Linked DNA regions of Homo sapiens: region 2 is linked to region 1. Evidence: fine-mapped expression QTL. Tissue or cell type: whole blood. Region 1 holds a variant in brackets; the other region holds the start of a gene. All regions are shown on one strand. Distances are between the middles of the regions.

What was found. PIP is the estimated chance that this variant, and not a neighbour inherited with it, causes the effect.
Region 2: ENO2 starts here. The variant in region 1 is fine-mapped to the expression of ENO2 in whole blood (TOPMed, PIP above 0.99).

Annotation. Positions count from the first base shown.
Region 1 is chr12:6,872,874-6,880,963 of GRCh38, reverse strand. It overlaps SPSB2 (splA/ryanodine receptor domain and SOCS box containing 2), which reads left to right and starts at 7,661. Exons shown (of 3, transcript NM_032641.4): 1 at 7,661-7,718; 2 at 7,967-8,090. The coding sequence starts at 8,063. LOC105369632 (a long non-coding RNA gene) reads left to right here. Exons shown (of 4, transcript NR_135083.1): 3 at 3,364-3,465; 4 at 5,050-5,200. RefSeq lists a silencer at 7,252-7,701. The variant G/A (reference allele first, on the strand shown) is at 3,097.
Region 2 is chr12:6,910,781-6,918,870 of GRCh38, reverse strand. ENO2 (enolase 2) reads right to left here and starts at 4,291. Exons shown (of 12, transcript NM_001975.3): 1 at 4,212-4,291; 2 at 2,954-3,050; 3 at 2,359-2,454; 4 at 2,142-2,200; 5 at 1,764-1,833; 6 at 1,157-1,290; 7 at 709-931. The coding sequence starts at 3,038. LRRC23 (leucine rich repeat containing 23) reads right to left here. Exons shown (of 8, transcript NM_001135217.2): 7 at 5,844-6,141; 8 at 4,642-4,980. The coding sequence ends at 5,868. RefSeq lists enhancers at 2,659-3,298, 3,299-3,940, 4,619-4,788, 4,819-4,888 and silencers at 4,297-4,487, 4,019-4,508.

The DNA of each region.
Region 1 (8,090 bases):
ACAGCCAGGCATGGTGGCTCATGCCTGTAATCCCAGCACTTTGGGAGGACGAGGCAGGAGAATTGCTTGAGTACAGGAGTTTGAGATCAACCTGGGCAACATAGAGAGAGTCCCTGTCTCTACGAAAAGTTAAATATTAGCCAGGCCTGGTGGCATGTGCCTGTAGTCCTAGCTACTCAGGAGGCTGGGGTGAGGCTGCAGTGAGTCATGGTCGTGCCACTGCACTCCAGCCTGGAGTACACTGAGACCCTGTCTCAACAAAATAATAAAATAAGTAAAAAGGCATTGTGGCACATGCCTGTAGTCTCAGCTACTTGGGAGGCTGAGGTTGGGGGGATTACTTGAACCCAGGAATTTGAGTCCAGCCTGGGCAAAATAGCAAGACCTCATCTATAATTTTTTTTTTTTTTTTGAGATGGAATGTCGCTCTGTCACCCAGGCTGGAGTGCAGTGGCGTGATCTTGGCTCACTGCAAGCTCTGCCTCCAGGGTTCACGCCATTCTCTTGCCTCAGCCTCCCGAGTAGCTGGGACTACAGGCGCCCACCACCACGCCTGGCTAATTTTTTTTGTATTTTTAGTAGAGACGGGGTTTCACTGTCTCTACTAAAGCCAGGATGGTCTCGATCTCTTGACCTTGTGATCCACCCGCCTCGGCCTCCCAAAGTGCTGGGATTACAGGTGTGAGCCACCATGCCCGGCCAATTTTTTTTTTTTTTTAATTTTTAAGTAAAAAATTTAAATTACTTGTAGCATTACGAAATTTTTTACCTTTTAGCAACAAATGTTTGACCAGCTCCAGATTCAGTGGCATCAACTGATGAATTGTTTAAAACAACCTTTTTTTTTTTTTTTTGAGACAAAGTCTCCCTCTGTCGCCCAGACTGGAGTGCAGTGGCGCAATCTCGGCTCACTGCAACCTCCGCCTCCTGGGTTCAAGTGGTTCTTCTGCCTCGGCTTCCTGAGTAGCTGGGACTACAGGCACGTGCCAGTAGGCCTGGCTAATTTTTATGTATTTTTTAGTAGAGACGGGGTTTCACCATGTAGGCCAGGCTGGTCTCGAACTCCTTATCTCAGATGATCTGCCTGCCTCAGCCTCCCAAAGTGGTGGGATTACAGGCGTGAGCCACTGTGCCCGGCCAACAACCATGTTTTAAACAACCAGTAGCAGCAGCAGCAGCAGCATCAGCAGCACAGGCGTGATTAAATTCTCAAGCTGAGCTAGAGCTAGCCATGGGGCAGGCACTGTTCTCTGTCCCCAGGCCTTGGTTATCACATGGGTCCTTCACTACTATTCATCATAGGCTGCCACCCACAGTCATGATGTTATTTATTTTTTGAGACGGGGTCTCGCTCTGTCACCCAGGCTGGAGTGCAGTGGCCTGATCTTGGCTCACCGCAACCTCCAATTCTAGACTCAAGGGATTCTCTTGCCTCAGCCTCTTGAGTAGCTGGGATGGCAGGCGCAAGCCACCAAAGCCTGGCTAATTTTTTGTATTTTTTGTAGAGGCGGGGTTTCATCATGCTGCCCAGGCTGGTCTTCAACTTCTGATCTCAAATCGGCCCACCTTGGCCTCCCAAAGTGCTGGGATTACAGGTGTGAGCCACTGTGCCTGGTCTTACAGTCATGATGTTATTATTGATGTCACATACTGGCAAGCATATCCAGGTTGGGTGGATGACAAGTTTCAGGTTCATATCTTTATTTTAGTATGCTTTCTTCTTCTTTTTATTATTATTTTATTTTCATAGGTTATTGGGGAACAGGTGGTGTTTGGTTATATGAGTAAGTTCTTTCGTGGTGATTTGTGAGATTTTGGTGCACCCATCACCCAAGCAGTATACACTGAACGCTATTTATAGTCTTTTATCCCTCCACCTCTTCCCACCCTTTCCCCCTGAGTACCCAAGGTCCATTGTGTCATTCTTATGCCTCTGCATTCTCATGGCTTAGCTCCCACTTATGAGAACATATGATGTTTGGTTTTCCATTCCTGAGTTACTTCTTAGTGTGCTGCTTTCTTCTTCCTCTTTAAAACATTATAAAATATTTTGTACATCATTTTATATATATATATATATATATATATATATATATATATATATATATATATATATATACAGCCACATAGTGATTTTTACACAAACGAATATATGCTCACCTAACAGATGCAGTAACTGAGGGATTTTCTTTTTCTTTTTTTTTTTTTTTTTGAGATGGAGTTTCGCTCTTGTTGTCCAGGCTGGAGTGCAATGGCTCAATCTCAGCTCACCACAACCTCTGCCTCCCAGGTTCAAGCGATTCTCCTGCCTCAGCCTCCCGAGTAGCTGGGATTACAGGCATGTGCCACCATGCCTAGCTGATTTTTGTATTTTTAGTAGAGACGAGGTTTCTCCATGTTGGTCAGGCTGGCCTCAAACTCCCGACCTCAGGTGATCTGCCTGCCTCGGCCTTTCTTTTTTCTTTTTTCTTTTTTTCCTAGTTCTTGTGGTCCTCAATTATTTTTATTTTATTTTACTTTATTTTTTGAGACGGAGTCTTGCTCTGTCGCCAGGCTGGAGTGCAGTGGCAGGATCTTGGCTCACTGCAACCTCTGCCTTGCGGGTTCTTCTGCCTCAGCCTCCTGAGTAGCTGGGATTACAGGCACGATTCTCCTTCCTCAGCCTCCTGCGTAGCTGGGATTATAGGCACATGCCACCACGCCCAGCTAATTTTTGTATTTTTAGTAGAGACGGGGTTTCACCATGTTGGCCAGGCTGGTCTCGAACTCCTGACCTCAAGTGATCCACCTGCCTCGGCCTCCCAAAGTGCTGAGATTACAGGCATGAGCCACCATGCCCAGCCTATTTTATTTTTTTGTTTTGTTTTCTGAGATGGAGTATCACTCTGTCGCCCATGTTGGAGTGCAGTGGCGCCATCCTGACTCACTGCAACCTCCGCCTCCTGGGTTCAAACAATTCTCCTGCTGAGGGATTACAGGTGCACACCACCACGCCTGGCTAATTTTTTTTTTTTTGTATATTTAGTAGAGACGGGATTTCACCATGTTGGCCAGGCTGGTCTTGAACTCCTGACCTCAGGTGATCCACACGCCTCG[G/A]CCTCCCAAAGTGCTGGGATTACAGGCGTCAGCCACCGCGTCCGGCCTATTTTATTATTATTATTTGGTAGAGATGGGGTCTCACTAGTCTTCCAGGCTGGTCTCAAACTCCTGGGCTCAAGCTCCTGCTTCAGCCTCTCAAAGTGGTGGGATTACAGGAATGAGCCACTGCACCCAGCCTACTAAGGGATTTCCAAGGGTAACTTTAACTATGTGACATAATTGTAATTTACTTCTCCTCATTTTCTATTCCTTCAAAATGTAAAGCTTGTGACAGTCCAGCCCCTTCAGCCTGGAGTTCCACCTACCAGTCCCCACATGTGCTGTCTCTCACCAAGGTTGCCAGTGACCTCTGACCAAAACAATCTTGTAAGTAATCAAAACTGAATTTTCTACCTTGTTCTATTCTCCTTGACCCTTCTGTTGCTCCACACTCTCTTTGTCCCCATCGCCCATATTTCACTCACTCATTCTCATAGTTCAACTCCTGACTAAAGACTGACACACCTCCCAAATCCCTGTCTCCAGCCCAGGCCTCTCATTCTGCCTCCAGACCTGCCATTTTCTTGTGTGTTCTGGATGGTTCCATTTGCTTGTGGCTCAGACACCTCAAAAACATATCCTAAACTGAACTCACCATCTCCCTCTCCCACCCTCCTGCCCCTGCCCTCAATTACTCCTCTTTCTGTCATCTCCATCTTGATTGGTGGCACCACCTTCCAATCAATTTTTCCAGGCTAGAAACTTCCCTTTCTCTTTTTTTTTTTTTTTTTTTTTTGAGATGGAGTCTTGCTCTGTCGCCCAGGCTGGAGTGCGGTAGCGCCATCTCGGCTCACTGCAGCCTCCACCTCCCTGGTTCAAGCAATTCTCCTGCTTCACCCTCCGAAGTAGCTGGGATTACAGGTGCCCACCACCACACACAGCTAATTTTTGTATTTTTAGTAGAGACAGGGTTTCACCATGTTGGCCAGGCTGGTCTCAAACTCCCAACCTCAGGTGATCCGCCTGCCTCGGCCTCCCAAAGTGCTGGGATTACAGGCGTGAGCCACTGTGCCCAGCCTCAACTCCATATCTAATCAGTCACCAAATCTTGCCGTTTCATCAGTGTTTCTTGAATTATTTTCATCCTTATTTCTACTGTCCTATTTCAGGCTGTTGACACTTGTCACCTGGGCTGCTGGAAATGGTGTCTTTGCTTCCAGTCCTTTTTTTTTTTTTTTTTTGAGACAGAGTTTCACTCTTGTTGCCCAGGCTGGAGTGCAATGGCGTGATCTCGGCTCACCGCAACCTCCACCTCCCAGGTTCAAGCAATTCTCCTGCCTCAACCTCCTGAGTAGCTGGGATTACAGGCATGCTCCACCATGCCCGGCTAATTTTGTATTTTTAGTAGAGACAGGGTTTCTCCATGTTGGCCAGGCTGGTCTCGAACTCCAAACCTCAGGTGATTCGCCCATCTCAGCCTTCCAAAGTGCTGGGATTACAGGTGTGAGCCATCGCGCCCAGCCAACTTCCAGTTCTATTTCCCTTGAAGCTCCTCTATGTTGCTGCCAGGGTGGTTTTTCTAAAATGCAGATCTGGCCAGGCACAGTGGCTCACGCCTGTAATCCCAGTACTTTGGGATGCTGAGGCAGGAGGATCGCTTGACTCAGGAGTTCGAGACCAGCCTGGGCAACAGACTGAGACTCTGTCTCTATTTTAAAAATTAAGAAATAATAATTTGTAAATTAAAAAAATAAAAATAAATTAGCTCGGCATGGCGGTATGCACCTGTAGTCCCAGCTACTCAGGAGGCTGAGGTAGGAGGATCAGCGGAGCTCAGGAGGTTGTGGCTGCCATGAGTCGTGATCACGCTACTCCACTCCAGCCTGGGTGACAAAGTGAGACCCTGGCTCAAAATATATAAATAAATCAAATGCCTATCTGACCATGTTCCTCTCTTCTTCTATCCTACAGTGGCTCCCCATCACTGGCCTGTCCTATGGGAAAACATTTGCATTCCTTAACTCAGCCTAGAAGGCCTCTGTGACTTGCTGTCTACTTATCTGGCCCTTCTCATGCTTCCTTTCTGGCTGTAGCAACCTTGAAGATATCGTACTTCCCCAAACCCACCTGCTGCTTCTTGCTTTTTTTCATGCGGACTCTTCTGTCTGGAATATCTTCTACATGCAGCAACCGTAACCCAACCTCCATACTGCAGAGAAGTGGCTCGTCTCAGGCCAATTCCTGGTCATCCTTTTAGATTCAGCCCAGGCTGGGCGCGGTGGCTCATGCCGGTAACCCCAGCACTTTGGGAGGCCGAGGCGGGCAGATCACGAGGTCAGGAGTTCGAGGCCAGCCTGGGCAACATAGTGAAACCCTGTCTCTACTAAAAATACAAAAATTAGCCAGGCATGGTGGTGCACGCTTGTAGTCCCAGCTACTTGGGAGGCTGAGGCAGGAGAATCACTTGACCCCAGGAGGCAGAGGTGAGCTGAGATCACGCCACTGCACTCCAGCCTAGGCATCAGAGCTTAGACTCCGTCTCAAAAAAAAAAAGAGAAAGATTCAGCCCAGTGTGAAGGTGTGAACCTCTTCTAGGACATGAAAAGATTCAGCCCAGGTGTGAACCTCTTTTGGAGATGCTCCTTTCCTAACTGCTTGAACCCCGGATAGGAGTCCTATTCTTTTTACTCCTATAGTACTTTCTTTATATCTCCATAATTTTATTTACTATTACTACATGATACATTATTTTATAAAAGTCTTTGTAACCTCCTTAAGGATTCACTGCTTAATCTCCAGTGCTTAGCACAAATCATTAAATGCGAACCAGAAACTCTTCCAAATGTGTTACATCTATAACCTCATTGGATTCTCACTACCAACCCCATGCAATAGATACTAATGTGATCTCTGTCTTACAGAGGAAGAAACAGGCACAGGGAGGTTCAGTAATTTGCCCAAGGTCATACACACACTGGCCTTCAGGTATTCATGCCCGGGGAGTCTGGTCCCACAGCTGGCATGTTTGCCATTATATTATATTGCCTCCTTATAGTGTCGGCACTCATTAAGCACATTGACAGCTATGCTTGGTGAGTGACTACTATGTACCCAGCTCTGTGCTACATGCTTTACCTGGATTATTTCAACTGCACAACAACCCTGTGAGGTAACTACCATCATTGCTCCTATTTTACATAACAGAAAACTACAGAAATCTGGGGCTGGGCGTAGTGGCTCATGCCTGAAATCCCAGCACTTTGGGAGACCCTGTCTCTAAAAAAAATTTTTTTTTGGCCGGACGTGGTGGCTCACACCTGTAATCTCAGCACTTTGGGAGGCTAAGGCAGGCAGATCACAAGGTCAGGAGTTCTAGACCAGCCTGGCCAACATGGCAAAACCCTGTGTCTACTAAAAATACAAAAAATAGCTAGGCGTGGTGGCAGGTGCCTGTAATCCCAGCTACTCAGGAGGCTGAGGCAGGAGAATCCCCTGAACCTGGGAGATGGAGGTTACAGAGAGCCGAGATCGTGCCGCTGCACTCCAGCCTGGGCAACAAGAGCAAGACTCTGTCTCGAAAAAAATAAAAATAAAAATAAAAATATTTTTTTAAAAATTAGCTGGGTGTGGTAGCACATGCCTGTAGTCCCAGCTACTTGGGAGGCTGAGGTAGGAGGATCACTTGAGCCCAGGAGGTCAAGGCTGCAGTGGGCTGTGATGGCGCCACTGCACTCTAGCCTTGGTGACAGCAAGACCCTGTCTCAAAAAAAAAAAAAAGAGAAATCGGGCAACTTCCCCAAGATCGCGCAGTTAACTAGTGGCATAGCTTCACTCAAACTCGAAGTCTTAATCAGGACACTCTACCAAATGAGATCAACGGCTCAGTAATGGATTGGCATCCAGTATGAAGACTGGACCAGCAGGGAGAACTATGATGCGTACAGCCTAGAGCCTGAAGCAGATTTCACAGCCTCAGAGGTGGCACAGGCTGACTCACAACCCGGGGCAGAAAGGGACCAGCCCAGAAACAGTGACCCAGAATCACAGGGAAGTAGAAATGGGATTCGGCACAATGAAGCCCCTCCTTGACCCCATGCTCCTTACCCTCAGGGGCGCAGGAGTTAGTCGCTCAGGCGGCTCAAAGGTCTTGACGGTGGAGAACACCATCCCCAGGGATTCCCGACGCGGTGATGCCATCAAAGCGTTAATTCTGAGATGGGCCTGCCCGGGTGCGGACTCTGCCGCAGCAAGAGAAGGGTTAACTGCCCCGGGCCTTCGCCGTGGGGGCGGGGCCTCGGGGAGGGTCACAGCCCGGGACTGAGACCCGAGGTTAACCGCCCGGGGTGGGCTCCACGGGGGCGGGGCATGCTCTCCGCGGCTGCTGCCGGTATAGAGCGGTAACTGCCCAGGAGGGGGCGGGGCCCCACAGGGGCGTGGCCTCGGAGCTGCACGGCCGTGGGCGGCGATGAGAGGGTTAAGCCCCAGAGGGCCCTGGAGGGGCGGGGCCGCGGGACGGGCTCGGCCCAAGGGAGGAGCTGGGGGCGGAAGCGGCCGGCGGTCTGCGCCCTGCGCGCCTCGGCTTCTTTCCGCCCGGCTCCTTCAGAGGCCCGGCGACCTCCAGGGCTGGGAAGTCAACCGAGGTTCGGGGGCAGCGGCGAGGGCTCCGGGCGAGTAAGGGGGATGGTCCATGCTGAGGCCCAAATGGGGCGAACTCGCGAGAGTCTCTGGCGACCTGGATCAGATGGGGCGAGGGCAGATGAAGGGCCCAGGAGCTTTGGGGCAGCGAGGAGGGAGGAGCGGGCCCGTTGGCAAACTTGGGTGAAAGGATGGGGTACCTGGGTGACGAGCCCCCGCCAGGATTCTGCTCTTCACGCCCCTTTTCTCCCAGCTCCCTTCCAGGTCAATCCAAACTGGAGCTCAACTTTCAGAAGAGAAAGACGCCCCAGCAAGCCTCTTTCGGGGAGTCCTCTAGCTCCTCACCTCCATGGGCCAGACAGCTCTGGCAGGGGGCA
Region 2 (8,090 bases), 38 kb before region 1:
ATCTGTGATTACAGGCACACGCCACCATGCCCGGCTAATTTTTGTATTTTTAGTAGAGACGGGGTTTCACCTTGTTGGCCAGGCTGGTCTCAAACTCCTGACCTCAGGTGATCCACCCGCCTCAGCCTCCCAAAGTGCTGGGATTACAGGTGTGAGCCACCGCGCCCGGCCTTCCAGTGGCAACTTAACAGATGCTAACACATCTGGCTAGGCAGGTAAAAGACTGTCCCCTGGCCAGGCGTGGTGGCTCACGCTTGTAATCCCAGCACTTTGGGAGGCCGAGGCGGGCCGATCACAAGGTCAGGAGTTCGAGACCACAGTGAAACCCTGTCTCTACTAAAAAATACAAAAAATTAGCCGGGCGTGGTGGCGGGCGCCTGTAGTCCCAGCTACTCGGGAGGCTGAGGCAGGAGAATGGCGTGAACCCGGGAGGCGGAGCTTGCAGTGAGCTGAGATCGAGCCACTGCACTCCAGCCTGGGTGACAGAGCAAGACTCCGTCTCAAAAAAAAAAAAAAATACTGTCCCCCTAGGTCTGCATGTGAATTTGGCAGGCTCTCTGCAATCCACTCTAAGAACTGGTACCTTTTGGAGTTTGCAGAGTCCTAGGACCCTCCACGCCTACTCAGGACTTGGTGAACTGTGTCACCCTTTCTGATGTCCCACAATAGGGTAAGACTTAGAGCTGGGAGTGGGGCTCCTGGCCTCACCTTCACTGTTCTCCAGGATATTGGGGGCAAAGCCACCTTCATCCCCCACATTGGTGGCATCCTTGCCGTATTTGTCCTTGATGACTCCCTTGAGTGTATGGTAGACCTCTGCACCTAGTCGCATGGCATCCCGAAAGCTCTCAGCTCCCACTGGGAGGATCATGAACTCCTGCATGGCCAGCTTGTTGCCAGCATGAGAGCCACCATTGATCACGTTGAAGGCCTGGGGAGCCACAGAAAGACAGAAGGGTCAAAGAGCCCCTCCCTGCCCGCCCCAGGAGTGTTAACCCAAGATCCCAAACTTCCCCCAGCTTTCCGGACTAAGTCTCACGTCCCCATCCTTCCTCTTTACCTCCCTCAATTCACTTTCCTCCCATCATTCCTCATGAGTTGCATGCTCCCTCCCCCACCCGCCCCTGGGAGAGCCGCAGGCTGGCTTATTGCTCACCGGCACAGGCAGGATGAGGTCTGAGTTCCCGGCCAGCTGAGCAATGTGGCGATACAGGGGCAGTTCCCGCTCAGCTGCCCCTGCCTTACACACGGCCAGAGACACACCCAGGATGGCATTGGCCCCAAACTTGGCTAGGAGATTATAGAGGAAGGTGCTGAGCACAATGTCCCCTTCTCCTTTCTAGCTCCTGCCTCCATCTGTAGTCTCCAAAAGGAGCCAGTAAAGGAGACCCCCTCCTCCCTCCCCACCCCTGCCCCAGCAACACCTCATCCATGCTCTCTTGAAAACAGCAGGGAGAGGAATGGGTGGGGAGGAGGAGATTGGAAACGGCAGAGAGCCACACCTCTTTCTAAATATCCCTGAGACCACAGACTCTCTCAGGCCATCCCCCTCCTCTGTATGCTGCAAAGAAGGTCTTCCTTCTGCCTACTGTCGGTCCTTCCCTCTGCAGCTAAACTCATCTCCCCTTGCTCTGGCTTTGAGAGGAGAATGCCCCTGACAGTCATTCCTGAGGAAGCCACTACAGCACTGGCCCTTCAGCTCTCTATCTGCTCCACGCCTCCCCACCCTGACGCTTCCCCACTTTCTCCCGGCCCCGGCTCACATTTGTTCTCAGTCCCATCCAACTCCAGCATCAGGTTGTCCAGTTTCTCTTGCTCCACCACAGAGAGACCCTGAGGGCAGAGCCTCCATCACCCAGGGCCAGGCTGGAGGCTGAGCCCTAAGGCAGAGGGTCCCCTCATTCACACCCAAGCTCACATTTGGCCAGGGTCCAACCAGGTCCCTGTGACAGGGGCCTACCTGGATTAGGGGACCTGAACTCCCATGGGAGCAGGGTGCATTAAGGAAGCTGTTCCCCACCCTTCCCCCTTGTAACCATGATTCCTAAGAGTGGGCCTTCTTTCTTCCCTTCCTCCTGCCCTGCTCCGGGATTCCTTCCAGAACTCTGGCCCTGCTATCCCCAGCAAAGAGCAGGCCTCACTGAGCTGATGAGGGCTGGCGCGATGGTGGAGTTGATGTGGTCCACTGCCTTCAGGACACCTGGGGAAAGGAAGAGGCTGGACTGGGTCGGGCCAGGAGGGGCCGGAAGGGATCAATGGGAGGAGGGGAAGCCATGCTAGAGGAGGACTGGGGACTGGTGTGAGGTAGGGGCATAAGGCTGAGGTGGGGGAGAGTCTGGAAAAGAGAAGGGACCTCACCTTTGCCTAAGTAACGCTGTTTGTCTCCATCCCTCAGCTCCAGGGCCTCATAGATGCCCGTAGAGGCTCCACTGGGCACTGCAGCCCGGAAAAGACCTAAAGGAGGAACATGGAATGAGAGGGAGTGAAGAGGACACAGGGGCCAGGGAGTCCTTCAGCCTTCTGGCTCTAAACTGCCTGCCTACCACATCTAGCTCTCTCCCCACACTGCTCCCTAACATCCCCCCACCCCCACCCCACACACACACTGAGGCAGATGCACAAGAAGTGGCCTCCTCATCCACCCATCTGAGGCCCCACATGCACAAGTGGGAGCCCGCAGAAAGAAAATTGCTTGCAGCACACGTCTGCACACATGCAAGTGCACAGGCAGACACACGGAGGCAGGACATGCCTCACACGCTAAACTCGAACACAGACCCACCTACCCTGGCTCCCCGGACAAGGAGGATCCAACCGCCACAACCCAGGCTTGTGAGCCTGGCCCAGCACCCCATACCCCTGGGTATCAAAAAAGGCCTCCGAACCCCTGGCCGAACCCAGCCTGGCCGTGGAAAAGCTAGGGCTGTAGGAAGGCCCATGCCACACCCATTACCTTTGGCAGTATAGAGATCCACCTCCACTGTGGGGTTCCCGCGGGAGTCCAGGATCTCCCGGGCCCAGATCTTCTCTATGGACATGATGGCTGGGATCTCCTCGGGTGGAAGGGAAGGAAGGAGAAAGATAAGAGGCTTAGAGGGGTGGAGCCTGAGATCAATGGGCGGGGCGGGAGGCTGGGAGGGATGGGAAAGAGGTTACTGCAGTGGGTGGGGGGTGGGTAGGGAGGCGCTGGCTGCAGTCTAGGGCTGTAGAAGGGATTCCCCCTCCCCCCTGGGAAGAGGAGAAGGTCAATGCAGTGAGGAAGGGGAGGTCACTGCAGTGGGGGGCGGGGTAAGATCAAATGATGAGATGGGAGAACACTGCAGTGAGGAGGGGAGGGGCACGACAGTGGTTCCCGCGCCTCTTTGCAGCTTGGCCAGCCGGTGGGGTTCCCCCAGATCTCCTCAGAGCGGAATGGCTGCCAGGCTTGCATTTCTCCTGGGAGCCAAGAAGAGGATGGGCTGCCTGGGCCTCTCTTCCAGAGCCCCCATACCTCCCCAACTTAACACCCCAGCTGCCTGAACACTGCCCCTTCCCCAAGGTCCCACTCTCTCCCAAACGTGTATCCCTCCTCTTCCCGCGAAAGGCGCATGCAATACAGGTGTCGGGGAAGAGGGTCCTGAGAAAGGCCCTGCAGTCCCTGGGGGTTGCAGCGGGAAGTGAAGAGGATAAGAGCCGGTGGGGAGTGGAGGCGAGCTGGGCCTGTCCTCCCCTCTGCGCCTCGACAGATCCCCACTTCTTCCATCTCTCCCCCGTGCAGCAGAGGGGAGGAAGCGCGAACGGAGAGGGGCGCCGTGGGGAAGAGCAGGAGAGAGGGGAGTCCAAGGGAAGTCTGGGGGAGGTGAGGAACGGTGAGAGAAGACATTTCCCCAAATGCAAACCAAAAGGGACGCTCTAGGATAAAAATGCACCGCCCGGAGAGGCTCCCAACTTAGAAACAAATAGAACCGTAGATGAGGGCGAGCACCGGGAGAGAGGCAGGCAAGGGTGGAGAGGCGCAGTTAGAGATAGGCGCGCAGAGGGCCAGAAAGCGAAGGCAGCGGGCGGGGAAGGCCAGGGAGGGAAGGCGCCCTGGGCGCGGGCGGCGGAGCAGGTGCGCAGCTGCACCGGGCCAGAGATGCGGAGAGGTGCGCAGCGGCACCGGGTAAAGGAGGCAGGGGCGCCGCGGCGAAGGGAGGGGGCCACAGGGGCTCTGGGCCTGGCGGGGGCTTCACCTCGGGACTGCAGACTCAGACGGTGGTAGTGGCGGTGGCGGTGGCGGTGGCGACGGCGGCGCTGAGAGAGCGGGAGTGGCAGTGGCGGCGGCGGCTGCGGCTCCCGGGCGGCGGGCGGAGGAGGCGCCTATAGGGCCGCGCGGGCGCATGTGACCCGGAGCCCCCGATGAGTCAGGAGCTGCCGGCGGAGGCGCACGTACGAGCGCGGGTGGGGGACCGACGAGGGTGGAGTGGGGAAGGGAGGAGGATGGGGGAAGGGTGGGGGCACCCACGACCTGGCCCCAGCGCACACAAGCGCTCATACCCACGGCCCGACCCACTCGACAGTAACAGGCAGAGCCGCACCCCTGTAGCCCGGGTACGAAGGCCCACACTGCCAGTGAAGCCCAAGACAGCCTCAATGTCTCACAAACCCGGTCAGACACAGGAGCATCACTCTGTTTCTTTATTGGAAATCCGAACACCCCAGCCGCCTTCGCAAGTCTCTCCAACCACTCCTACCAGCACCCCGCGGCCCACGCGGTCTTGGCTCTCACCCACGCCTGCCCGAGGGCGGCCCCCGGCCTAGGCTCCAGGCAACGCTCAGGCCTAGGCACCCCATTCTGCACCCCACACTGCCCAGAGGACCGGCACAGAGCAGATCCTGGGCCTCAGGTTGTGATGAATTTCCAGCTTTGGGGCAAAAACAGGCATCCTCTGTTCTCTGTCATACATGTGGTGGCTGCCCCTGGGAGTCTGATCAGGTCTGAAGGCCAGCGTCTTTGATCTCCTGGAGGTAGAAGACAGAAGTAAATAGGGACCAGGCGCTGTGGCTCACCCCTGTAATCCCAGCACTTTGGAAGGCGGAGGCGGGCAGATCACGAGGTCAGGAGATCCAGACCATCCTGGCTAACGTGGTGAAACCCCGTTTCTACTAAAAATACAAAAATTAGCCAGGCGCGGTTGCATGCGCCTGTAGTCCCAGCTACTCGGGAGGCTGAGGCAGGAGAATTGCTTGAACCCAGGAGGTGGAAGTTGCAGTGAGCTGAGATTGTGCCACTGCACTCCAGCCTGGAGACTAAGCAAGACTACCTCGCAAAAAAAAAAAAAAAAAAAAAAAAAAAACAAACAGAGGTAAATAAAGCCTCTCCCCTATCTAAAGTGCCTGGCGGCCACCCTCATCTCTTCAGTCTCTTTTTGCCTCACTCTGCCCTCTTTTCTTCCCCCATCTCTGTGTCCTGTTTTTAGCTTCAGATTTTTTGTGCTGGATCTTCCTCTCCTGCTTCTCTCCTAGGTCCAGCTGCATACACCACCAACTTTCCCCTGCAGCCCCTACCATGCACCCACACCTGTCCTTTCCTAGCCGACTTCACTCTGTGTCAGGTATGGCTGCCCCACCCCCCACCAACTCCTCTGCCTGCCACCCCAATTCTTTTCACTTACTCTTCTGGCCTCCTAAGTCTTTCTCAGCTGGTCCCAGGCCCCTTGGGTCCCTTTTCCTCTCCCTGACTCCTAACCCTCCTCTCTTTAAGGGTCCTGCTTGTCTGATGCTTTCCTCTCCCACCTCCTTCTGCAGCAGCTTCCCCTCTTGCCTCTTCCCCTACCTGCCCAGCCCTTGGCCTCCTCCCACTGCCTCCCTGCAGGCTTCCTTACTATCTTTAGAGGCTAGAACTGCTGCTAGATCAATGACTGTTCGGGTTCCAGGTCACGCTGGGGCTCAGGCTCCTGCTCCTTTTCTTCCTTCAGCCTCTGTCGAATCACATCAGCCTCAGCCCGTTCCTCCTCCTCATAGAATTCCTTGTCCAGGCGTTCAAGGTATGGCATCTGCACCAGGGCCTCCTGGCGGTAGCTGGTTTCGTCCGTGCATGGGTTATCAAGCAGCACCAACGCTCGCAGCTTGGGCAGGTCTCGAAGCTTGGCCAGCTCCCCCAGGTTGGCCACCATGTTGCCCCTGCCAGTGTGGTCAGGAGGGGTTCATGCAGGAATAATGGGCTTTGGTTGCCAGTTGCTAGGAATGGGGCCTCTGGGGGACTCTCGGGGTTCCAGTGTCCCTAGAAACACTGTGAGGACTGGCCTGCCAAGCCTTGCCAGATTTACTGCAGAGGTGCTGTGTGACCCCGCTCTGGTCCTGCTTCTGCCCTTCAAGGAATCCCTAAGTGCCATATTCTACTCTGTAATACATTCATGTGTTCTTTTGGTGCAGCAAAGCTAGGCCACAACCCTGTCTTGTAGCTGGGGAGGAGAGGGCAAATTTTCCTCACAGGGAGAGACATTTTCTGTGATCACACCTAAATGGAGGGTAGAAGGTAGGACCCAGCCTGGGCAACATAGCGAGACCCCATCTGTACAAAAGCTAAAAATAAAAAAATTAGCTGGGCGTGATGGCATACACCTGTAGTCCTTGCTACTTAGCTGAGGAGGAGGGATTGCTTGACCCCAGGAGTTTGAGATTACAGTGAGCCGAGATCGAGCCACTGCACTCCACCCTGTAGGACCTAGGTCAGTGGACAAGGAACTGGGATCTAAGCTGGAGTTTAGGGTGGTGGATGCTCGGTTCGTGCTCTCCACAAAGAGAACCTAAGGCTATGGATGGGTTGGAGCCTCCCAACCTGAAGAATAAACTTCATCTCCTAATGTGCCTCATTATATGATACTCTGTTTTTATTTTATTTTTATTGAGACAGGGTCTCACTATGTCACCCCGGTTGGGGGTGCAGTGGCATGATCATAGCTCACTGCAGCCTTGAATTCCTGGGCTCAAGTGATCCTCTCACCTTAGCTTCCTAAGTACCTCCAGGCATGTGCCACCACACCTGGCTAATGTTTAAATTTTTTGTAGAGACTGGGTCTCACTATGTTGCCCAGGTTTGTCTTGAACGCCTGGCCTCAAGCAGTCCTCTTGCCTTGGCCCCCCCAAAGTGCTGGGATTACAGGCGTGAGCCACCATGCCTGGAATTTTATTTATTTTCATGTTCTGGCTTTAAGCTTTTATGAAATCTATTTAAGTGTTTCAGCCTGATCTCATGGTCGTGCTGAGCCTCATGCAGTGTTTCTCACCAGGAGGGCTACAGGAACTTTGTACTGGACTCTGCCATACATTGTTGGATGCTTAGCATCTCTGGCCCCAGAGGCACCTGCCAATCATTGAGACACCCTCACCCCCCTCCACACACACACCCGACTTACTCTCAAAACATCCCCATTTAATAGCCACTCAGGAAGGGTCCATCATGCCTGTCTAGATCATTAACAGGAAGATGGCACAGATACACACCCCACCAGATCCGTGTGGCAGAGTTCATGAATAAGAGAATGCCCAGGGGGTCAGGATGAGAGTTGGGGCTTCCAGATGCAACCACCTCTCCCTACTTGGAGATGCTCTTTCCATTACCAGCTCAAGAATCTGGTCTTGTTGACTAAGGAAAGAGGCAGTTTCCTTACATGTTTGCTGAAATAAACACACATAAAGTCCTCCATCCGACAAGAGTTGCTGATCTTCAGTGCCTTTCTACCAAAAGATTTTCTTACAAATGTCCTTCTCTCCTCAAATCTGAGCACATCTTGTGTTTTTTTAATCAGTAAAAAGGTCATCCCTTACAGGTGGGGCTCAGGAGAAGAGAGGCAGGAAATGGGAAGGTGAATTGGGACCGAGGAAATGGAGAAGGGCAGTGGAAACTTATATAGGATAGGGTGAGGAAAAAAGAGTTGGAGCCAGACTGTGAGCCCCTTAGGAACAGGAATCACCTCTGATTCCTTTCTTTCTTTTAGAGACAGCTCACTCTGTCACCCAGGCTGGAGTGCAGTGGCACAATCATGGCTCACTGCAACCTTGAACTCCTGGGCTCAAGTGATCCTCCAACCTCAGCCTCCTGAGTAGCTGAAACCACAGGTGTGCACCAC